Homo sapiens: one gene and its partners. The protein of the gene in region 1 purifies or fractionates together with the protein of each later gene. This does not show direct contact. Each region holds a gene or a part of one and is shown in the gene's direction. Other genes may lie near its edges. The genes, in order: CAST, LZIC, ZDHHC5 and PPME1.

Region 1 (4,483 bases):
AACAGGGTTTTTTTTTGTTTTTTTTTTTTTGCCTTTTGGTACACAAAAGCCAGTCCTGATCGAGACAAGCTCTATTTTGTTTTTTAAATACATTTTATTGTGTATATTTGAGGTTTACAACATGGTAGTTTGGGATGCATAGAAATAATAAAATGGTTACTGTAGGGAAGCAGATTTACATATCTATCATTCTCACACAACTACTTTTTGTGACAAAAGCAGCTAAAATCTACTTAGTTAACAAAATCCCTAATACAATTTTATTAACCTTAGTCCTCATGTTATACATTAACTCTCTACACTTGTTCATTCTGCATATCTGCTATTTTGTATCCTTTGACCTATATCTCTGTTTCCTCCTCCTGTTCCCTACCATGGTCGCCATGTTTTATTCTCTGTGTTTTTGAGCTTTTTCTTTTATATATATTCTACATATAAGTGAAATCACTTTTCTTTCTGTGTCTGGCTTATATCATCTAGTATAAGGTCTTCCAGGTCCATCCATGTTGTGACAAATAGTAGGATATCGTTTTTTAAGGCTGAATAATATTCCATTATGTATATATACATGACATTTTCTTTATCCATTCATCAACAACTAGGTTGTTCCATATCTTGGCTATTGTGAGTAATGTTGCAGTGAATATGGGAGTGCAGATATCTTTATAAGGTGATAATTTCATCTCCTTTGGGTATATACCCAGAAGAGGGATTACTGGGTCATACAGTAGTTCTACTTTTAATTTCTTTAGGAACCTATATACTGTTTTCCATCATAGCCCATACCAATCTACATCCCCACTGACAGTGTACTAGGGTTCCCTTTTCTCCACACCCTTGCCGACATTTATTATCTATTGACAAGCTCTGTTTTGATTAGCAAAATAAGGTCTGGGTGAGTCAGGCACCACGGGAATTAGAGCATCAATGTCACCCACATTTCCCTCCTTATTTCTATCCTTTTTCCCTCCTGCTTTAAACAATTCTCTGACACCGTTGTTCAAAAAAAATCATGAAAAAACACCCAAAGTCTTCCATTATTTAATTAAATTGGAGATCTCAGAATGGTCTGGATTAATTTAACTGCAGCCTAGTTAATTGCTAGATGGATTGGTGATAGCCATAGCCTCATTACATTTCCTTTGCTTTAGGATAAGTGCAAGAAGGCTGCTTCCAGCTCCAAAGCACCTAAGAATGGAGGTAAAGCGAAGGATTCAGCAAAGGTAAATGGAGCAGTAAATATACTACAAATTAGTTTAGCAGTTACACAGAGTAGGGTTTATCATTTCAGTCATTTAGTTTCCTACTGGAATCTATTTAGAATAAAATTTCTTAAAGTACTATCTATCCCATAGCATCGCTTGGTAAAGTAATTGAATTTGTATAAATACATATATTTTTAAGTAACTGGTGCTTTAAAATCCTAAATGAATGTTCTTGACACAACCCAATTTGCCTGTGTTTTGCCTGTCTTTCTTGCCCTAATTAAAATACCACCATAGTATGTGGTTTATATAGATTTTAGAACATGGAAGTTGGAAACTTCCTATTATTAAAATTACTCAAGCTGTGATGAGAAATGAAAATTGGATTAGACAACTTCTAGGTCCCTTCCAATTCCAAGAACATATGATTTAAATGATTATTACTATGATCCCCTGGCTATAAGGAGGAGTTAAAGGTGTAGCTTTAAAGACAATAGTCCAGTTACACCAAAGCTTTTAAAACAATATATTAAAATCTTCCTGTAGTAGATTCCCTTAAGGGATATAGGAAACAGCATTGATAATTGGCAGTTATGCCATTATATCTCAGTTTAAATACTTATTTGCCTATTATTTAATTTCAGTTATACGAAGTACTTAATCAGCCCTTTAACAAATAATAGAAAGCATAATAACCCTTTATGATGAGTGGATTTACTGGACAGCCATGACCCTATGTACAGGAAAGGAAGGATCACCACAGAATGAAACATTGCCATTTAAGAACACCTATGCATATTTTATAACCTACCCTAGCCTTAAAAAAATAAAGCTGAGAGTGATACATTTAGGATCAGGATCACTTAAGGTTATTTTTAGCTTATAAGCTTGAGGAGGAAGAACTCACAATATTGTGGCCAGATGAAGAAGAGAAACTGAAAGGACCATCTTATTTTTCCCCACTGACTGCCATCTTTTGTCCCCTAATTCTGAGAAGGCCATCTCCTCATACTTAATACAGAAAAGAAAGCTCACGGATGGTTTTGCTTTCCCTTTTAGACAACAGAGGAAACTTCCAAGCCAAAAGATGACTAAAGAAATACAAGTTAAGGTATCTGGTAAGTTGGGTGTTTATTTGTAAATGAAGACAACTGTATCTTCTGCCAATTTATGTGTTATAGATGAGAGAAGTGAAGTCCACCTCTTGAGTAATTCATGCTCACTTTACAGTATTGGCATGAAATGCATACTGCAAGATCTACAGAGTAATTGGTCATTCTCTGAAAGCACTAAATGGGATGAGTTTGCTATTGAAATGTTTAAAAACCTTAATCTTATAATTAAAAGCTTTTAAAAATATTAGGCCAGGCACTTAGAATGACCATCTGAGGCTAGTTGAATCTTTGAAATCCAAATGCTCATTACTGCAGGTTATTGTGGCAAAGCAAAATTAGCATGTTACAACTTAGCGAAATGTCCTGAAGACATTGGCATTCCCCAGAATACCAATACATGGTGGGGTGGGGAGAAGTACCCTTTAGAGTCTGGTGGAAATTACAGGGTTTTGGGAACAAGGGCAAAGGAAAAGATTGGCCATTTTTATTTGTCATTATTTTGGAAAGTAAAGTACTGTGTTTGATTCTAATTTATAATTGCTGAAGAAACTGGACAGATTGAAGGGATTTCTGAGATCTTCAGAACTGGGCCCTTATCTTAATCTTCAGAAAGGAGAGGGCTTAATGTAAGCCTTAAAAGCATACAAGCACTTACTGACCAAAGCCTAAAAGAAATCAAAGTATAGGTTAAATCGGGTTCAGCTCTCTCACCATGATCCATGTTTATTTCCTAGGAAAAAAGGAGCTATATTAGGTAGAACTGCTCTAACATTTTTCCCAAAATTAAAAAAAATTCTATTAATCCACTTTCATGTTTACTTATAGGAAATTCCTTCTGTCTGTTATACAATGCTTTTGCTAAGTGGTATATTTACTATGTCTGTAACAAGAAAATTACATATTAAATGATTCACTGCATTTTTTATTTGAAATTTTTAAGGTATCTGCATGTAAAATCTTCAGCTGGTGGATGGTGACTTTTGAAGAACAAAAGGCTTTGGCAACAGAAAACAATTGTTCTGGGTGATTTCTAGAATGGTTTTTGTTGAGTCTCTGAACATCCTAAATATTGGTTTGTTATTCTTTTCCAGAAAGAAAATGAATTTGACTGGTTCACCTGTGTACTGAGTATTGATAAACTTTGAATTTTTTTAATTGCCTTCAATTGGGAGAGAAAGCTTTATATTTGTAAGAAATATATTTGATAAAGTTTCTTAAAGCAACACCAAAAAAACAAAAGAAAAGCTAAGTGAATTTTTGCACATTCTACACACAGTGCCTGTAAATCTCATTTGTATTTTCAGTTTGCCCTTAATTTTTTTTGTTAGTGTTTAGAAAACAATGTTTTAAACATTCTTCAGTGTTCTGATTTCTTATTACCCCCTTTCCTCTTGGGCTTTTGAACTGTATTTGATGTTGCTTTGGGATAATGTTTATAAGTCAAACATAAGATATTGTACATTGGGCACATATCTCCTCTTGGGCTGCTAATAATAAATTAATAACAGGTAACCTGGACAAACCAGGAAGCACCAAACCCCTTTTCAGTTTGAACTCTTCTTTGCCAGGTGTGAGGACTTCTGCATCTTACAGTCAGCACAGAACACACTGAGACTTGAATCAAGTCAGCAACAGAGCAAAATAAAGGTTAGATAAGTCCTTGTGTAGCAAATTTCGAGCATAAGAAATAAAATCTAATTAATTCTTAGGGTACTCATCTGACTTGAACTCTGTTGGTTTACTGTGTTAGTAAACTGTGCTTTCTATTATCTATACATAAAACCTGAGCAGCAACTGTGTCTTTAGAGCTATTGCCACATTAGCCTTTGCACTGTATAGCGTCTGGCTTTATGGAACTTAAGTTTACCAAATATAAAAAGAAACTTCTGCTTTTAAAAAAATTATATATATATATTAAATTTGAAACCTGCATTTCTCCCACAGCAATGTAAGAAGTAGGCTCTGATGTCCTACCACTTTGAATGGTTTTCTAATATCTTAATGAATAGTTCCTGAACATTGCACTGATATCATCGATTAGAATTTTGATATTTAATTTCATCTTTATTTCCTGGTAGAGAATGCAGGAAAAGATGTCAGGTACATAACATAAAACAGATTGGGAATTTATTGTTTCCAAAGGGCATGGCCTTCCTTAGCATC
Region 2 (5,579 bases), on another chromosome or scaffold:
CTTTGCTTAAAGTCGCATCAGAGAGCTGAGGGTAAGACTCAGGTGTCCTGACTCCCAGTTTAGTATCTTTTGAATTTTATTTCTGTACCATTTAAAAAAAATAATTAACACTATTTGTGCAAGTCAGTGTTTTTGAAAATTCAGTGTCCCAATAAAAAGTGGACTGCACACTAAGGGACCATCCCCCAGCCTGTAAGCTGTCTGTATTAATGGGGCCCGTTGTATCTCGGAATTTTGAGGTTGGAACAATGGGAGCCCTGTTGAGCGTTTCCTAAAGTGACTTAGCCGCCTGCGTTGTTTGACCAGGGAAGCAACAGGAAATGGCAGCTAGAGGCCCTCCCTGTGCGTGACCTCTTGTCACACTCAGAGGGGGGTAACTGTCAGCTGTTATCTACTCTTCAGGTTTTGGAGAAACACAAAATAAGTTATGAGGAAAAGCAAATTTCTCTCCTGAGTATTTACATGTCTCTGTATGCTCAAATATGCAGATGTGTCCCTATGCGTGTATATTAGCTTATTTTTTAGGCTCTAGCCATTTTATATTCTTTCATGTGCTTCTCAATATTCTTTTTCTTTGCACTTTATACAAATTAAAAGCATTTTTAAAGCTTCTTCTGTACTGTAAACTACTAGGTGCTTTGCCAACCAGACAGATTAGAGGACCTCCGCTACACTGATGCCTTATTTGGAACTTAAAAGAGGTGAAATTCATATATCATAAAATTCACCATTTTAAAGTGTACCATTCGTTGGCAGAACATTTACAGTGGTGTGCAACCATCACTACTCTCTAGTTGCAGAACATTCTTATCACCCCCAAAGGAGGCCCTATACCTATTAAGCAGTTAGTCCCCATTCCCTTCTCCTCCGACTGCTAACAATAGCCACTAATCTGCACCCTGTCTCTGTGGATTTACCTATTCTGGATATTTCATATAAATGGAATCATATGATATGTGACCTTTTTATGTATCTGGCTTCTTTCACTTAGCATAATATTTTCTTTTCTTTTTTTTTTTTTTTTTGAGACAGAGTTTTACTCTTATTGCCCAGGCTGGAGTGCAATGGCGCAATCTCAACCTCCGCCTCCCAGGTTCAAGAGATTCTCCTGCCTCAGCTTCCCAAGTAGCTGGGATTACTAGTGTGTACCACCACGCCCAGCTAATTTTTGTACCTTTAGTATAGAGACAGGGTTTCACCATGTTGGCCCAGCTGGTCCTGAGCTGACCTCAGGTGATCCAACTGCCTCGGCCTCCCAAAGTGCTGGGATTATAGGTGTGAGCTACCACACCGGGACATCATCATATTTTCAAGTTTAACCAACATTATAGCATGTATCAGTACTTTATTCCTTTTTATGGCTAAATAATATTCCATTGTATGGATATCATATTTTGTTTATCCGGTATCTGTTGATGATTTGGGTTGTTTCCTTCTTTTGGCTATTGTGAATAATGCTTCAGTGAACATTTGTGTACAAATATTTGTTTGAATACCTGTTTTCAATTTTTTTGGGTGTACACCTAGGAATGGAATTGCTGCGTTTGTTGTTGTGTTGTTGTTGTTGTCGTTGTTTTTTGAGATGGAGTTTCACTCTGTTGCCCAGGCTGGAGTGCAATGGCGTGATCTCGGCTCACCACAACTTCTGCCTCCCAGGTTCAAGCGATTCTCCTGCCTCAGCCTCCCGAGTAGCTGGGATTAAGGCATGCGCCACCACACCTGGCTAATTTTGTGTTTTTAGTAGAGATGGGGTTTCTCCATGTTGGTCAGGCTGGTCTCGAACTCCTGACCTTAGGTGATCCACCCGCCTCAACCTCCCAGAGTGCTGGGATGATTACAGGCATGAGCCACCATACCCGGCCTGAGCCACCACACCCAGCCTACGTTTGTTTTTTAAGCCATAGAAGATTCTTCCCACCAGTCGGGCACAGTGGCTCACACCTGTAATCCCAGCACTTCAGGAGGCCAAGGCGGGCGGATCACAAGATCAGGAGCTCAAGACCAGCCTGGCCAACACAGTGAAACTCCATCTCTACAAAAATTAGCCAGGCATAGTGGCAGGTGCCTGTAGTCTCAGCTACTTGGGAGACTGAGGCAGGAGAATCACTTGAACCTGGGAGGCAGAGGTTTCGGTGAGCCGAGATGGCGCCACTGCACTCCAGCCTGGGCGACAGACTGAGACACGGTCTCAAAAAAAAAAAAAAAAAAAAAAAGAGGAAGAAGATTCTTCCCTTACCCTGCAATAGTAGACCAGAAAAATTAGGAATATCTTGAATTTGAAAGGGACCTAATGCCTGGCACAGTGGCTCACGCATGTAATCTCAGAACTCTGGGAGGCAGAGGTGGGCGGATCGCCTGAACTCAGGATTTGAGACCAGCCTGGCCAACATGGTGAAACCCTGTCTCTAAAAAAAAAAAAAAAATTAGCCAGGCGTGATGGCATGCACTTGTGGTCCCAGCTACTCAGGAAGCTGAGGTCAGAGGATCACCTGAACCTGGGAAGCAGAGGTTGCAGTGAACTGAGATCACGCCACTGTACTGGCTGACAAAGTGAGACCCCTGTCTAAAAAAAAGATAAAGAGAGTTACCTGAATCTGGAATCCTTAATCTTGGTTTTCCTTAAACTTTCTATAAGTCCAGCATCTGAAATATTTTGTCAATTATCACATTAATGTGTTCATTTTGTAAGTAAGAGTACTCAATTTAAAATGATCTTACTTTAAAAGTGGCCTAGTTTGCAGTGCCCAGCAGGACACTGACAGTCACAGCTGTGTGACTTTTTGTGGGTTACTTAATTTTTTTGAGCCTCCTTTTCTCTTCTATTCAATGAGGATAATAGGGCCTACCTCATAGGATTATTATGCATTCCCCTCTGTTAATGCACGTAAAGTTTTTACTTGGAAAACTAACTCACCATTTAACAACCATTCTAAGCACCATAGGATATATTTTGTTTCACAAATTTGGTATTCATTCAGAATAAGTATTTGAAAAGTGAGTAAATTCTATGCAATTATAGTTATTAAATGACTTATAAACTGTGTTTCTCTTCCACTTCTTGCTACATTTAATCTTCTAGGTGTTCAGATATCTTTGGAGATTATAGGCAGCAATAAAGCTAAGGCAGCTAACCTTTCAACATTCTTGTGTCAGGCTAATATTTTGGTGAAAGGAATTCTTGTGTTTCTCAAAGAACTAGAGCTGAAGCAGAAATAAGTTCCAATGAGCAAGTGTCCAATCGGACCATTGAATGAAATCTAGTGTTTTAAACAATTCTGATGTTTCAATGTTTTGTTCTGTTTTCTTTTGATCTTGTGAGCAGTAAGACATATTTTATGTGGGTGGTAAAGGAAGAAATCAAGTAACAGAATGAGGAATTGTTCCCAGGAAGAGTTAGAGTTGGGACAAATGGGTTGTTAACTTTGATTTTTAGATCTTCTCTGAAGACATTAAACATGGAATGGTCATCTTTAGAAAAATAAAAGACTATGCAACTCCACCACTGAAATGGTATCTTATTACAGTGAATGATGGATAATCTGAAATTACTATAGAAAAAAATAAACCCAGACCATTTTGCCTAGAGCCTTTCAACCACCTTTCTGTCCACGTTTTTCTTTTTTATTCTATTTATTGCTAAGACCAGTGAATGTTCTTCTTTGCCTTCCAAAATGTTTTCCAGCATTAGTATGTAAATTAAAACTGTCGGCAGGGCGCCGTGGCTCACACCTGTAATCCCAGCACTTTGGGAGGCGGAGGCGGGCAGATCATAAGATCGAGACCATCCTGGCTAACATGGTGAAACCTTGTCTCTACTGAAAATACAAAAAATTAGCTGGGCGTGGTGGCGGGCGCCTGTAGTCCCAGCTACTCAGGAGGCTGAGGCAGGAGAATGGCGTGAACCCGGGAGGCGGAGCTTGCAGTGAGCCGAGATTGCACAACTGCACTCCAGCCTGGGCAACAGAGCAAGACTCCATCTCAAAAAAAAAAAAAAAAAAAAAAAAAGGCATGAGTGGTGGCTCATGCCTGTAATCCCAGCACTTTGGTAGGCCAAGGTGGGCAGATCACAAGGTCAGGAGTTCAAGACCAGCCTGGCCAATATGGTGAAACCCTGTCTCTACTAAAGATACAAAAGTTATCCAGGTGTGGTGGCGTGTGCCTGTAATCCCAGCTACTCAGGAGGCTGAGGCAGGAGAATCACTTGAACCTGGGAGGCAGAGGTTGTAGTGAGCCAAGATCTTGTCACTGCATTCCAGCCTGGGCGACAGAGGAGACTCTGTCTCAAAAAAAAAGAGTTCACAATGGAAAGTCGATACTGTTGAAGAGCTTCAGCAAAGTTGAGAGGTCTGAGGCTGTCAACTGGAAGCTTCCTAAATGCTTGGTTATTTTTCTACCAGAAAATCACACTGCTTATTGCTTACAGCCTCAGGCAGTTGAATACAATTAAAAATAAACCAGCAAAAATATCATTTATTATAAAAGAAGTCAAGGAGAGCCATCAAGTTTTTCTGTGTGTTTGTTTTTTAGAGTGAAGATAATGCTGGTAAGGGTTTTTTGTTTGTTTGCTTGTTTGTTTTTGAGACGGAGTTTCGTTCTTGTTGCCCAGGCTGGAGTGCAATGGCCCGATCTCGGCTTGCCGCAGGGTTCAAGCAATTCTCCTGCCTCAGCCTCCTGAGTAGCTGGGATTACAGGCATGCGCCACCATGTCCAGCTAATTTTTTTTTTTTTTTTTTTGTATTTTTAGTAGAGATGGGGTTTCTGCATGTTGGCCAGGCTGGTCTCAAAGTCCCGACCTCAGGTGATCTGCCCACCTCGGCCTCCCAAAGTGCTGGGGTTACAGGCGTGAGCCACTGCGCCCGGTGGTAAGGGTTATTTCTAAGATGATACATCAGCCACAGATCCTCTGCCTCAGCCTCTGGCGACTGTAACTGAATTTTGAAGCCCCCCCTGCAAAACCTCCTGCTGAGCTGTGTTACAGTTATGACTTGGTTTGAGAGTTTCTGCTACCTTGTCTATTTCCTGTAAAACATCGTAGCAGGTCAGGTACTGTTTTTTGGTCACTACTAAATTGTCATATTACACGAGGCTATTCTTTACTACTAAAGGAGCTTAATTTTGTTGTTGTTGTTTTTTCCCCAACATTATTCCTTCAATACTCATTAACCAGGCCAGATTGAAAACAGAGCCAGCCTGAGCAATGTGGCGGAATGCCATCTCTACAAAAAAACACAAAAATTAGGCCGGGCACGGTGGTTCACGCCTATAATCCCAGTACTTTGGGAGGTGGAGGTGGGCGGATCACAAGGTCAGGAGATGGAGACTATCCTGGCTAACACGGTGAAACCCCATCTCTAGTAAAAATACAAAAAATTAGCTGGGCATGGTGGCATGCGCCTGTAGTCCCAGCTATTTGGGAGGCTGAGGCAGGAGAATCGCTTGAACCCGGGAGGCGGAGGTTGCAGTGAGCTGAGATCGCGCCACTGCACTCCAGCCTGGGTGACAGAGCAAGACTCCGTCTCAAAAAAATAAATAAATAAATAAAATAAAATAATATGGATATTGGATAGAGCCTTTTTTTT
Region 3 (5,579 bases), on another chromosome or scaffold:
TCAGGCTCCCAAGTAGCTGAGATTACAGATGTGCATCACCACGCCCAACTAATTTTTGTATTTTTAGTAGAGACAGGGTTTCACCATGTTGGCCAGGCTGGTCTCGAACTCCCGACCTCAGGTGATCCACCCACCTCAGCCTCCCAAAGTGCTAAAATATCTTTTATTTATTTATTTATTTATTGTAATTTTAGTAGACACGGGGTTTCACCATGTTAGCCAGGATGGTCTCGATCTCTTGACCTCGTGATCCGCCCACCTCGGCCTCCCAAAGTGCAGGGATTACAGGCATGAGCCACTGCGCCCAGCCTAAAAATATATTTTATAACAAAATAATATCTATCTCCAAAGAAAGTCTTGGATGGTTTGGCATCATCACCTGAAATATCAATTGAGAGACCCAAACCAAACTGAAACTAGACAATATAGCATAAAGAATAAGATGATAGTTTTTTAAACAATACTCACCATAGAACTTGGTATCCAAATAATAGTATTCTTTCTTTAGTTTGTCAAAAATCATATTAATAGATTTTTAAATTTAAAGTGTAGCAAGACATATGTATATGTACATATATGTTCATATACATATAAATATTTAAGATCTTCCTAAAAAAAAAAAAGAATAGAGGCCACTTCTTAGTTAACAGACATTTACTATATGCCCACTGGATACTGGAGAATTTAGGCTCTGAGTTTATAGAAACAATGAAAGACTTAGGCTAGCCCTCAAGAAGCTTATAGTGCTGCTTACAGGAAAGCAATGATTTTTGTGCATATAATAGTAGCTAACCTTAATTGCTTTTTTTTTTTCTTTTTTGAGACAGAGTATCGCTTTGTCACCCAGGCTGGAGCCCACTGGCTGGAGCCCACTGGCTGGGGCGCAGTGGCACGATCTCGGCTCACTGCAACCTTTGCCTCCTGGCTTCAAGCAATTCTCCTGCCTCAGCTACCCAAGTAGCTGGGATTGCAGGTGCCTGACACCATGCCCGGCTAGTTTTTATATATTTTTATAGTAGAGATGGGGTTTTGCCATGTTGGCCAGTTTGGTCTCAAATTCCGGACCTCAGGTGATCCACCTGCCTCAGCCTCCCAAAGTGCTGGGATTACAGGTGTGAGCTGCCATGCCCAGCCCTTAATTGCTTATTCTTTATCTTAGTTTTCAATATTTAGAAAGCTATCCCATTTTACATGAGGAAACTGAGGTTTTGGGTCAGCAACCATGAGGTAGACCTAGGATTTGAACTAAGGACCCTGACTGTAGATTCCCTGCTCTTAACCATAACATATATAAATTTCTTGTGTTTTACTCATTTGCATAGCCCTCAGATAGTGAGTGCACAATAACTTGTAATAGATTTGTATTTTGGCCTTTGGAAGTCAAGGTCTCATCTTCTAACCTGGTATTTTTTTTCTCCCTCTAGGTTACGGGTAAATTCCGGGGAGGTGTGAACCCCTTCACCAATGGCTGCTGTAACAATGTCAGCCGTGTTCTCTGCAGTTCTCCAGCACCCAGGTACACCTATCCCTCTGGTCTAGTGTTTACCATTGGTCAGAACTTTTATCTTCTTTGGGCTTGTTCTGGTAAAGGAGGGGTCTGGTGAGAGCCTTTAGGAAGGGTTCTCTATCTTAGAATGTTAAGTACCCACTCTATCTTAGAATGGTAAGTAGTCTATCTTAGAATGGTAAGTACCTACATGCCCATCCTTTAGTGCAGTGGTCCCTAACCTTTTTGGCAGCAGGGACCGGTTTCATGGGAGACACTTTTTCCACAGATGGGGGCTGGGGTGGGGTGGTTTCAGGATGAAACTGTTCCACCTCAGATCATGAGGCATTAGATTCTCATGGCTGGGTGTGGCGGCTCACACCCAGCACTTTGGGAGGCCGAGGTGGGCGAATCACTTGAGGTCAGAAGTTCAAGTCCAGCCTGGCCAATATGGTGAAACCCCTTCTCTACTCAAAATACAAAAATTAGCTGGGCAAGGTGGCAGGCACCTGTAATCCCAGCTACTTGGGAGGCTGAGGCAGGATAATTGCCTGAACCCAGGAGGCAGAGGTTGCAGTGAGCTCAGAGCACACATACAACCTAGATTGCTTGCATGTGTAGTTTACAACAGGGTTCTAGGGTTTGCGCTCCTAAGAGAATCTAATGCCTCCGCTGATCTGACAGGAGATGGAGCTCAGGTGATAATGCTCACTGGCCCACTGCTTACCTCCTGCTATGTGGCCCAGTTCCTAACAGGCCATGAACCGGTACTGGTCTGCGGCCCAGGGGTTGGGGACCCCTGCTTTAGTGGACACTGTGAATTCCATTGATATTCTTCAGGTATTAAGGTAAATCTTTGAGAATTGAGGGTGAATAAGATACACTCTAAAGTGCTTTCCTTGAGCTAGGTATCTGCTCACAAAGGCCTAGTCCTGCTGCAGTCCTTCACAGAATCAATTCTGTTTATTGCTAAGTAAGTGATGGCCAAAACTGCAATTACTTTTTTACCAACCTAATAAAAATGGTTTACAGAAACAGTAGATACTTTAAAATATAAATGAATGAAAGCTCTCTCGCTGTGTCTCTCTCTCTCTCTCTCTCGACACTTAGGTATTTGGGGAGACCAAAGAAAGAGAAGACAATTGTAATCAGACCTCCCTTCCTTCGACCAGAAGTTTCAGATGGGCAGATAACTGTGAAGATCATGGATAATGGCATCCAGGGAGAGCTGAGGAGAACAAAGGTGAGGAATTTAGAGAAGTCAAGCTAGATAACATGGAAGTCTCACCCAAGGCAAAGAGACGGAAGCTTGCTTTAGTTTCCTTTGTGTTTTTTTTTTTTTTTTTGAGACAGAGTCTTGCTCTGTTGCCCAGGCTGGAGTGCAGTGGTGCTCAGTGCAAACTCTGCCTCCCAGGTTCAAGCAATTCTCCTGCCTCAGCCTCCCGAGTAGCTGGGATTACAGGTGTCCGTCACCTTGCCTGGCTAATTTTTGTATTTTTAGTAGAGATGGGGTTTTGCCATGTTGGCCAGGCTGGTCTCGAACTTCTGACCTCAGGTGATCTGCCCACCTCGGCCTCCCAAAGTGCTAGGATTACAAGCATGAGCCACCACGCCTGGCCCATATTTCTTACAGTGTTTATCACTTACTAATTTGGGTTAAAATTACTTAAATACAAATCTTGTTTTCTACATTAGATTTTTTTTTTTGAGAGGGAGTCTTGCTCTGTTACCTAGGCTGGACTCCAGTGGTATGATCTCAGCTCACTGCAACCTCTGCCTCCCAGGTTCAAGCGATTCTCGTGCCTCAGCCACCTGGGTAGCTGGGACTACAGGCATGCGCCACCACGCCTGGCTAATTTTTTTATTTTCAGTAGAGGCAGGGTTTTCCTATGTTGGCTAGGCTGGTCTCAAACTCCTGACCTGAAGTGATCCAACCCCCTCAGCCTCCCAAAATGCTAGGATTATAGGTGTGAGCCACTGCACCCGGCCCTACATTAGACTTTAAGTTCATTAACAATAGAAAATGAATTCATTCATTTCCATGTCTTCATAGGACTTAACAGCTTACAGCTAGATGGTAGGAGCTAAACAAGTAGTTGTTGGTTTAAATGGGCAAATAAGTGACAGAATTAAAACCTTTTTTAAACCCTTTCTTCTGCCAGGTACAGTAACTCATGCCTATAATCCCAGCACTTAGCGAGGCTGAGGTGGGAAGATCGCTTGAGTTCAGGAGCTCAAGACCAGCCTGGACAACATAGCGAGACTCCATCTCTAAAACAGACTAAAATAAAAAATAGAAAAATTTTCTGGCTGGGCGTAGTGGCTTATGCCTGTAATCCCAACACTTTGGGAGGCTGAGGTGGGTGGATCACCTGAGGTTGGGAGCTCGAGACCAGCCTGACCAACATGGAGACACCCTGTCTCTATTAAAAATACAAAATTAGCTGGGCATGGTGGCGCATGCCTGTAGTCCTAGCTACTTGGGAGGCTGAGGTAGGAGAATTGCTTGAACCCGGGAGGCGGAGGTTGCAGTGAGCCGAGATCATGCCATTGCACTCCGCCTGGGCAACAAGACCGAAACTCCATCTCAAAAAAAAATTAGCCAGGTGTGGTGGCACATGCCTGTAATCCTAGCTGCTTGGGAGGCTGAGGCATGAGAATCGCTTGAACCTGCGAGCCAGAGGTTGCAATGAGCCGTGATCACGCCACTGCACTCCAGCCTGGGTGACTGAGCAAGACTCCATTTCAAAAAAAAAAACCCAACTTTTCTTCATCTAATGCTATACCCAAACTGATTCTTGTGCCTTGTCTTCCAGTATAGTTGAGAAATATATGATAGGCAGTGGCTCATGTCTATAATCCCAACATTTAGGGTGGCCAAGGTGGGGTGATATTGCTTGAGGCCAGGGGTTCAAGACCAGCTTGGGCAACATGGCGAGACCCCCATCTCTACAAAATAAAGTAAAATAAATTAACTGGGTGTGGTGGCATGTGCCTGTAATCCCAGCTACTTGGGAGGCTGAGGTGGGAAGAGCACTTGAGCCTAGGAGTTGCAGGCTGCAGTGAACATGATCATGCGTACCACTGTACTCCAGCCTGGTCAACAGAGTGAGACCTTGTCTCAAAAAAAAAAAAAAAATACATGAGAATTGACTCCCAAATACCTCCCTCTTATATCAATTTAATACTTTGAGTTGCCATAATGCTCAATTTCTAAATCTGATTTTCCCTCCCTTCATCAATCCAGTCTAAGGGAAGCCTGGAGATAACAGAGAGCCAGTCTGCAGATGCTGAACCTCCACCTCCTCCTAAGCCAGACCTGAGCCGTTACACAGGGTTGCGAACACACCTCGGCTTGGCTACTAATGAGGGTAAGGGCTGCCTTGATTTGCAAGATACTAGAACTAGGGGCAGGATTGAGAAGGTTGCTTATGAGCTGTGGAAGACAGGCAAGGGCTGGGAGATATTACTCGTGTTGTGACTTTAAACACCCAACAGTTGGTACTTGTGCTACTTTGCAACTGAAAGAGAAGAGAGGCCATTTAGCTATTGGCAGTGAATGGGACTTTTGCCGGGAAAATGGTCAGCCTCTAGGCAGACCAGAGAACATCACAGAACCTTTTTGGTGCATTTACCCACCCTGAATTCTGGGCTGGTGTGAGTCTTTAAAAGTCTTGATTTCAGCGAAGGGTATATCTATTCCTACCTTGTCCTCTCCCTGTACTTAAGGAACCCTAGGCAGATAAAGTGAACAACTCATAGACTAGACGCAGTGGCTCACACCTGTGATCCCAGCACTTTGGGAGGCCAACGCAGGAGGATTGCTTGAGCCCAGGAGTTCAAGACCACCCTGGGCAACATAGCAAGACTCTGTCTCTACAAAAAATTTAAAAAAGTTAGCTGGGCATGGTGGCATATGCCTGCAGTCCCAGCTACTCAGGAGGCTGAGGTGGGAGCCCAGGAGTTCAAGGCTCCAGTGAGCTATAATCGTGCCACTGCACTCTAGCTTGGACAGTAGAGTGAGACCCTGTCTCTTAAACCAAAAAACCGCTTGTAAAATAGTGCCCCCTTGGCCTTTTTTCTTGCAGATAGT
Region 4 (5,579 bases), on another chromosome or scaffold:
AGTTACTAAAATAATCAAATCCCAGTATTTCTGTTTTTTTTTTTATTTTTTCATTAGATTTTTAAAAAGTTAAATTTATATGCCATAGAATTCACTCTTTTAAATGTACAATTCAGTGATTTTTGGTATATTCACTCAGTTGTACAATTACCACCACTAATTGCAGAACATTTTCATCCTCCCATAAACTCGTTACTCATTAGCATCTTCCCTTCCTCCCAGCATGTATTGCTTCTGGATCTTGAGTCACAGAAAGGCTTTTCCTTTTTTTGGGTTATAAAGGAATCATTTATATTTTTTCCTGGTACCTGTGTAGTGTCCTTTTTTTTTTTTTTTTTTTTTTTGAGACAGAGTCTTGCTCTGTCACCGAGGCCGGATGGAGTGCAGTGGTGTGATCTTGGCCCACTACAACCTCCACTTCCCGGGTTCAGGCGATTCTCCTGCTTCAGCCTCCCAAGTAGCTGGGATTACAGGCATGCACCACCACACCCAGCTAATTTTTGTATTTTTAGTAGAGACGGGGTTTCATTATGTTGGCCAGGCTGCTCTTGAACTCCTGGCCCCAGGTAATCCACCCACCTCAGCCTTCCAAAGTGCTGGGATTACAGGCATGAGCCAATTTTTTTTTAATCCATTTGAAGTTTATCTTGATATGCAAAGTGAGGAAAAGAAGACATTTTATTTTTATCCAAAGGCTATCTAGTTGTTTTCATCATTTATTAAATTTTTTAGTCCTTTACCCATTACGTAAATTTCACTACAATAAAGAAATAGTCCTGGCCAGGCTCAGTGGTCCATGCCTGTAATCCCAGCACTTTGGGAGGCCAAGGCATGTGGACCACTTGAGCTTGGGAGTTGGAGACCAGCCTGGACAACATGGTGAAACCTCTTCTCTACAAAAATCACAAAAATTTAGCTGGGTGTGGTGGTGTGTGCCTGTAGTCCCAGCTACTCTGGAGGATCATTTGAGTCCGGGAAGCAAAGGTTGCAGTGAGCCAAGATAATGCCCCTGCACTCTAGCCTGGGACACAGAGTGAGACTTTGTCTCAAAAAAAAAAAAAAAAGTCTTCTTTCTCACTGATTAAAATGACACCTTTGTCATATGCCAAATTTCTATATAAATCCGGGTCTGTGGAGTTTCTTTTACGTGCCACTACTGTACTTTTAATTAGAGGATTTATTAATATGTTTTGATGGGTGGTAGAGGTTGTTTACCCCTCATTCATTTTGAGGATTTTCGTGGTTCCTCTTGTTTTTTTCTCACAAATAAACTTTCTAATCCCATAGACTAGTGCCAGAAAAAAATCCTGATAGTATTTTTATTGGGATTACATTAAATACAAACATTAATTTAGAATAAACGTTTTTATGATGTTGAATGTTCCTTGAAGAAATATGGTATCTTTCAATTTGTATGAATCCCTTTTGAAGGAAATATATTTCAGATTCCAAGTATTGACCTAAGTTATATTCAATCTAATATTACTTAAATTCAATAGTACTCTTAAATAATTGTGAAACTCAGTAGATTTACTCTTTAAATACAATTAAGTCTACAAAAATCCCCAAACTCACATTAGCAACATTATATTGATGTGAAACAATCTAATTTGCTGTTATCAGTTTACTGTAGTTTAAACTACAAGGACATTTATTATTGATAGGATGTTCCAGGGTTCATTCAGTTGCTAAACAATTTCATTCAGGACCCAGGCTGTTTGCATCCTTTCTTTTGCCATCCTTAGAATGGTGGCTTTTCCTTCTCTTGCTTGTCACCTTATGGTTGCAGGATGGCTGCTGCCACTCTACTTCTATCTTATCTTTACAAATAAAAAGAAGCGGGGGCCAAAGTCCTTTCCTAGCTAAGCTTGTCTTTTAATTTTTTCCCAGAAATGCAAGCTCCCCAACAGATTTTTCCCTTAAGTCTTATTGTCCAGAACTGTTCACATACCCATCCTAAAACCAATCACTGGCAGTAGGGAATGGGATTAACTATGACTGGTTTAGACCAATTTTGATTCATTCCCTTGGACTGGAGGAGAGACAACAAGAGATCTCCACTAGCTGCTCAAACAAAAGTATTACAATTCTGTTAGGGAAGAGAGAGTGGGAAGTGGGCAGGTAATGTCTGGAATAGAGAATAAACAGCATCTGGCCCAAATCCTGAGGTTAACAAGTGGAGAAGCCTAATCTTCTGATTTCAACTTCCCTACTGTTTTCATTGCAGTGTAAGTATAGGAAGTAATAATCCCACCCCCAACTCCCCTGCCCCTTATTGCCAGATTTCAGCCCCTTGACATTCATTTCAGAACTTCTGAGTAAAAGTCCGTTTTTCCATTGTTGCTTATTGCCAGCAAATCTATTTCTTCTTAGTATCTCCAAAATTGGGTAATTTGCTCTTTTGTTTTATTTTAAACCTAATGAGCCTTCCATGTTATGCTACTTGATGTCAGATTTCAGAAAACATCTCTAGTTGTTTGGGAAAGACTGTTTCCTTCAAACTACAAAATAGTTTTTTTTTTTTTAAGAGAAGAAACTTTTAATTAATAGTTCTATTAAGAGGGTGGCCACACTTAGATATTCTTCAAATACAATATTGATTACAAGTTACAGGTATATTCTACCAATATATTTTGAAGATTGAATAAGAGATTATATTGAAAATTCCAATCATTTCAAACCACACCGGAAGACCGAAGTTGTTTACTTATCAGTCCTTTTCCTATATGCTTCTGTGTGTGTTTTTGGCCATAGACTTTTTCCAGGTTTAAGTAGACATCCTCTCTCTGCCACTAACAAGTTGTATGACTCTGGTCAGTTTCTCTTCCTGGGCCTCGTTATCATGGAAAGAAAGAACGCTTTGGCACCTGACGTACTTGTTTAAATCCAAGCTCCCCAGCCTGGGCAACATAGGAAAAACTTGTCTGTACTAAAACAAAACAAAACAACCAGGCATGGTGGTGCGCACCTGTTAGTCCCAGCTACTTGAGAGACTGAGATGGGAGAATCACTTGAGCCTGGGAGTTTGAGGTTGCAGTGTGCTGTGATCGTGCCACTGCACTCCAGCCTGGGAGACAGAATGAGACCCTATCTCTAAAAATAGTAATTATAAAATAAAAAGTCAAATCCAAGCTCCGGTGCTACCAAAAATGGCTCTGGGAAAGTTATTTAGTATTTCTGAGTCACCTTAAAATGAGAATACTTTAATGGTACTGTTCAAAACCATGCTTGGTACGTAATAAACACCTAGTTGTTTCCTTTCATAAAGTAAGATTTGAGTTAGATGATCTCTAACAGCATGATTCATGATGTAGTTTTTAGAATCCTGAAGTCTGCTGCTTAATGGCATGCCTTGGAGTAAGGAACACTTCAGACCTACCACAACCCTCAGCCAGCCATCTGGTTGCTTTCTTTTCATTCTCTTCAAAGTACTGCTAATAAGGACATTTTAAAAACAGTGGTGCCTTGATTTAAATAGCTGGCTGCAATTAAACTTCAGTATTTAGCCTCCACTACCAGACTCCTAGACTTTGACAGAATTTGTGACAACAAGTGATTAAGACTGCTACTGTGCCCATTCATGACTCATCAATAACTCTCTTAACAGACTTAAGCAGCCTAGATGTTGATGTGTTATTCCTATTTAGATTTGAGACATTCATGTAAAAACATACAACTTACATTTCTTGGTTATTGTTCTCTAGGCAAGGAAGGTTTTTCCTCCTTCCCTTTCTCCCCTTTCTCTCCTTCCTCCTGGCTTTCCTTAGGATTTGATCATATAATTTTGTTGGTTTTGGTCATTATCTCCTAGTAGGCATATCACATTGTAGACAAGCAGAACATTCTCTATTCTCCTTAGTCCTCTGAATTGTAATTATTGGTCAACTGTGTATTCCTCAAAACTGTTGAGGTTCATAAGGGTAGGAATTGTGTCTGAATTTTGCTGGTGCTTAGAATGCTGTCTCCTTTAGTGCTAACTGAACGAGAAACCCAAATCCTGGCCTATTTAACCCCGTTCTATAAGAACAACGTTATTTCCCCATCAGTTCCCTTAAGATGGTATAACTAGGGCTATACTGCCTTTCTCCTAAAAGCGGTTATACTTCATAGAATAATAGAATCTCTATTTCAATACCAGCTTTTAGGTAAAATGTATTGTGTTTACAATATGTTACTTTGAGATTTAAAATAATTATATGGTCGAAACTCTTGTAATAGGTCTTGTAATAGGCTTGTAATAGGTCTCATGATATGTACAGATTCAGGCTTGTTACTTTTATTTTATCAAAATTTGACAATTTATGTCTTCCTCTTTGATTCCCCAAACCTGAAAGCAAGTCCACTATTATAAGACAGCAAATGTCAATTAGCAATTATTTTCACACTAGCCTTATTTTATAGTATTCAATTTTTCTGCCCTTGCCCAATTTATCACTTATTCTCTAAGAGCGAAGACTATTTTCCAAGCACCTTCACCAAGTTTAGGGACCAGAGCAAGTGGTCCACCATTAAAGGCTAGTGTTAAAAGCGCTCCAAAGTCATGTCCTAAGCAGTGGTAATTTCCTAAGTGTTTCTTGCACTTAACAATTGCCAAGTTTATTTTGTTGGCAATGCCTTCCATTTTCTTCACTTTTTTTTTTTTTTTTTTTTTTTTTGAGACGGAGTCTCGCTTTGTCGCCCAGGTCGGACTGCGGACTGCAGTGGCGCAATCTCGGCTCACTGCAAGCTCCGCTTCCCGGGTTCACGCCATTCTCCTGCCTCAGCCTCCCGAGTAGCTGGGACTACAGGCGCCTGCCACCGCGCCCGGCTAATTTTTTTTTTGTATTTTTAGTAGAGACGGGGTTTCACCTTGTTAGCCAGGATGGTCTCGATCTCCTGACCTCATGATCCACCCGCCTCGGCCTCCCAAAGTGCTGGGATTACAGGCGTGAGCCACCGCGCCCGGCCCACTTTTTCAACTCCTATCCATCTTTAAAACTCATGAAGCACTTTCAGACTACTTTAGTTCATTCATTTGCTCTCTCTTCTCTGAGCACCTATAACAATTTTGGCATCTCCACTCATCAATTGTTTGCATTGGTATTGTACTTTTTCACTGTTACTGTGTCAGACTTATCGAAGATAATTTTATGCAGATTTTTGTGTGTTTCCTCAATAACATTTAGAACTCCTGTAGTGCAAGGACCTTTGTTTCTTTGTGCTTTCTACTGTAACACAGTTAAATGTTTTTGTAAAATTTAATTTAATGGACACATAGCACAAATTCATTTAAAATAAAGTTCTGAGGCTTTTTCTGATCAGTCCAGCTTGCACCGATTTTTCTATTTTCTGTCCTTTGGTGGCACCTGTCATTTTACCAGGAATCAGCAAACATTTTCTGTTAAAAGCCAGATAGTATTTTAGGCTTTGTGGGCCATGTTAGTCTCTGTTGCAGCTACTCAGCTCTGCTGTTTTAGAGTGAAAGTAGCCACAGACAATATGTAACTGAATGTGTCTGTGTTCTAACAACACTTTATGGACACTGAAATTTGAATTCCACATAATTTCCACATGTCATTAGTCTCTCTTCTCCCCCTGCC

The links.
Region 2: the proteins of CAST (region 1) and LZIC fractionate together in Homo sapiens (co-fractionation; one large-scale study listed by BioGRID). This does not show direct contact.
Region 3: the proteins of CAST (region 1) and ZDHHC5 purify together in Homo sapiens (co-immunoprecipitation; one large-scale study listed by IntAct). This does not show direct contact.
Region 4: the proteins of CAST (region 1) and PPME1 fractionate together in Homo sapiens (co-fractionation; one large-scale study listed by BioGRID). This does not show direct contact.

The regions. Positions count from the first base shown.
Region 1 is NC_000005.10:96,769,380-96,773,862, forward strand, and holds part of CAST (calpastatin), read left to right. Parts: intron 1-1,151; coding exon 1,152-1,223; intron 1,224-2,264; coding exon 2,265-2,300; 3' UTR 2,301-2,323; intron 2,324-3,260; 3' UTR 3,261-4,483.
Region 2 is NC_000001.11:9,924,313-9,929,891, reverse strand, and holds the end of LZIC (protein LZIC), read left to right. Parts: 3' UTR 1-3,599; downstream 3,600-5,579.
Region 3 is NC_000011.10:57,691,187-57,696,765, forward strand, and holds part of ZDHHC5 (palmitoyltransferase ZDHHC5), read left to right. Parts: intron 1-1,424; coding exon 1,425-1,516; intron 1,517-2,596; coding exon 2,597-2,729; intron 2,730-4,733; coding exon 4,734-4,857; intron 4,858-5,574; coding exon 5,575-5,579. UniProt on the Homo sapiens protein: Palmitoyltransferase that catalyzes the addition of palmitate onto various protein substrates such as CTNND2, CD36, GSDMD, NLRP3, NOD1, NOD2, STAT3 and S1PR1 thus plays a role in various biological processes including cell adhesion, inflammation, fatty acid uptake, bacterial sensing or cardiac functions.
Region 4 is NC_000011.10:74,176,401-74,181,979, forward strand, and holds part of PPME1 (protein phosphatase methylesterase 1), read left to right. Parts: intron 1-5,579. UniProt on the Homo sapiens protein: Demethylates proteins that have been reversibly carboxymethylated. Demethylates PPP2CB (in vitro) and PPP2CA. Binding to PPP2CA displaces the manganese ion and inactivates the enzyme.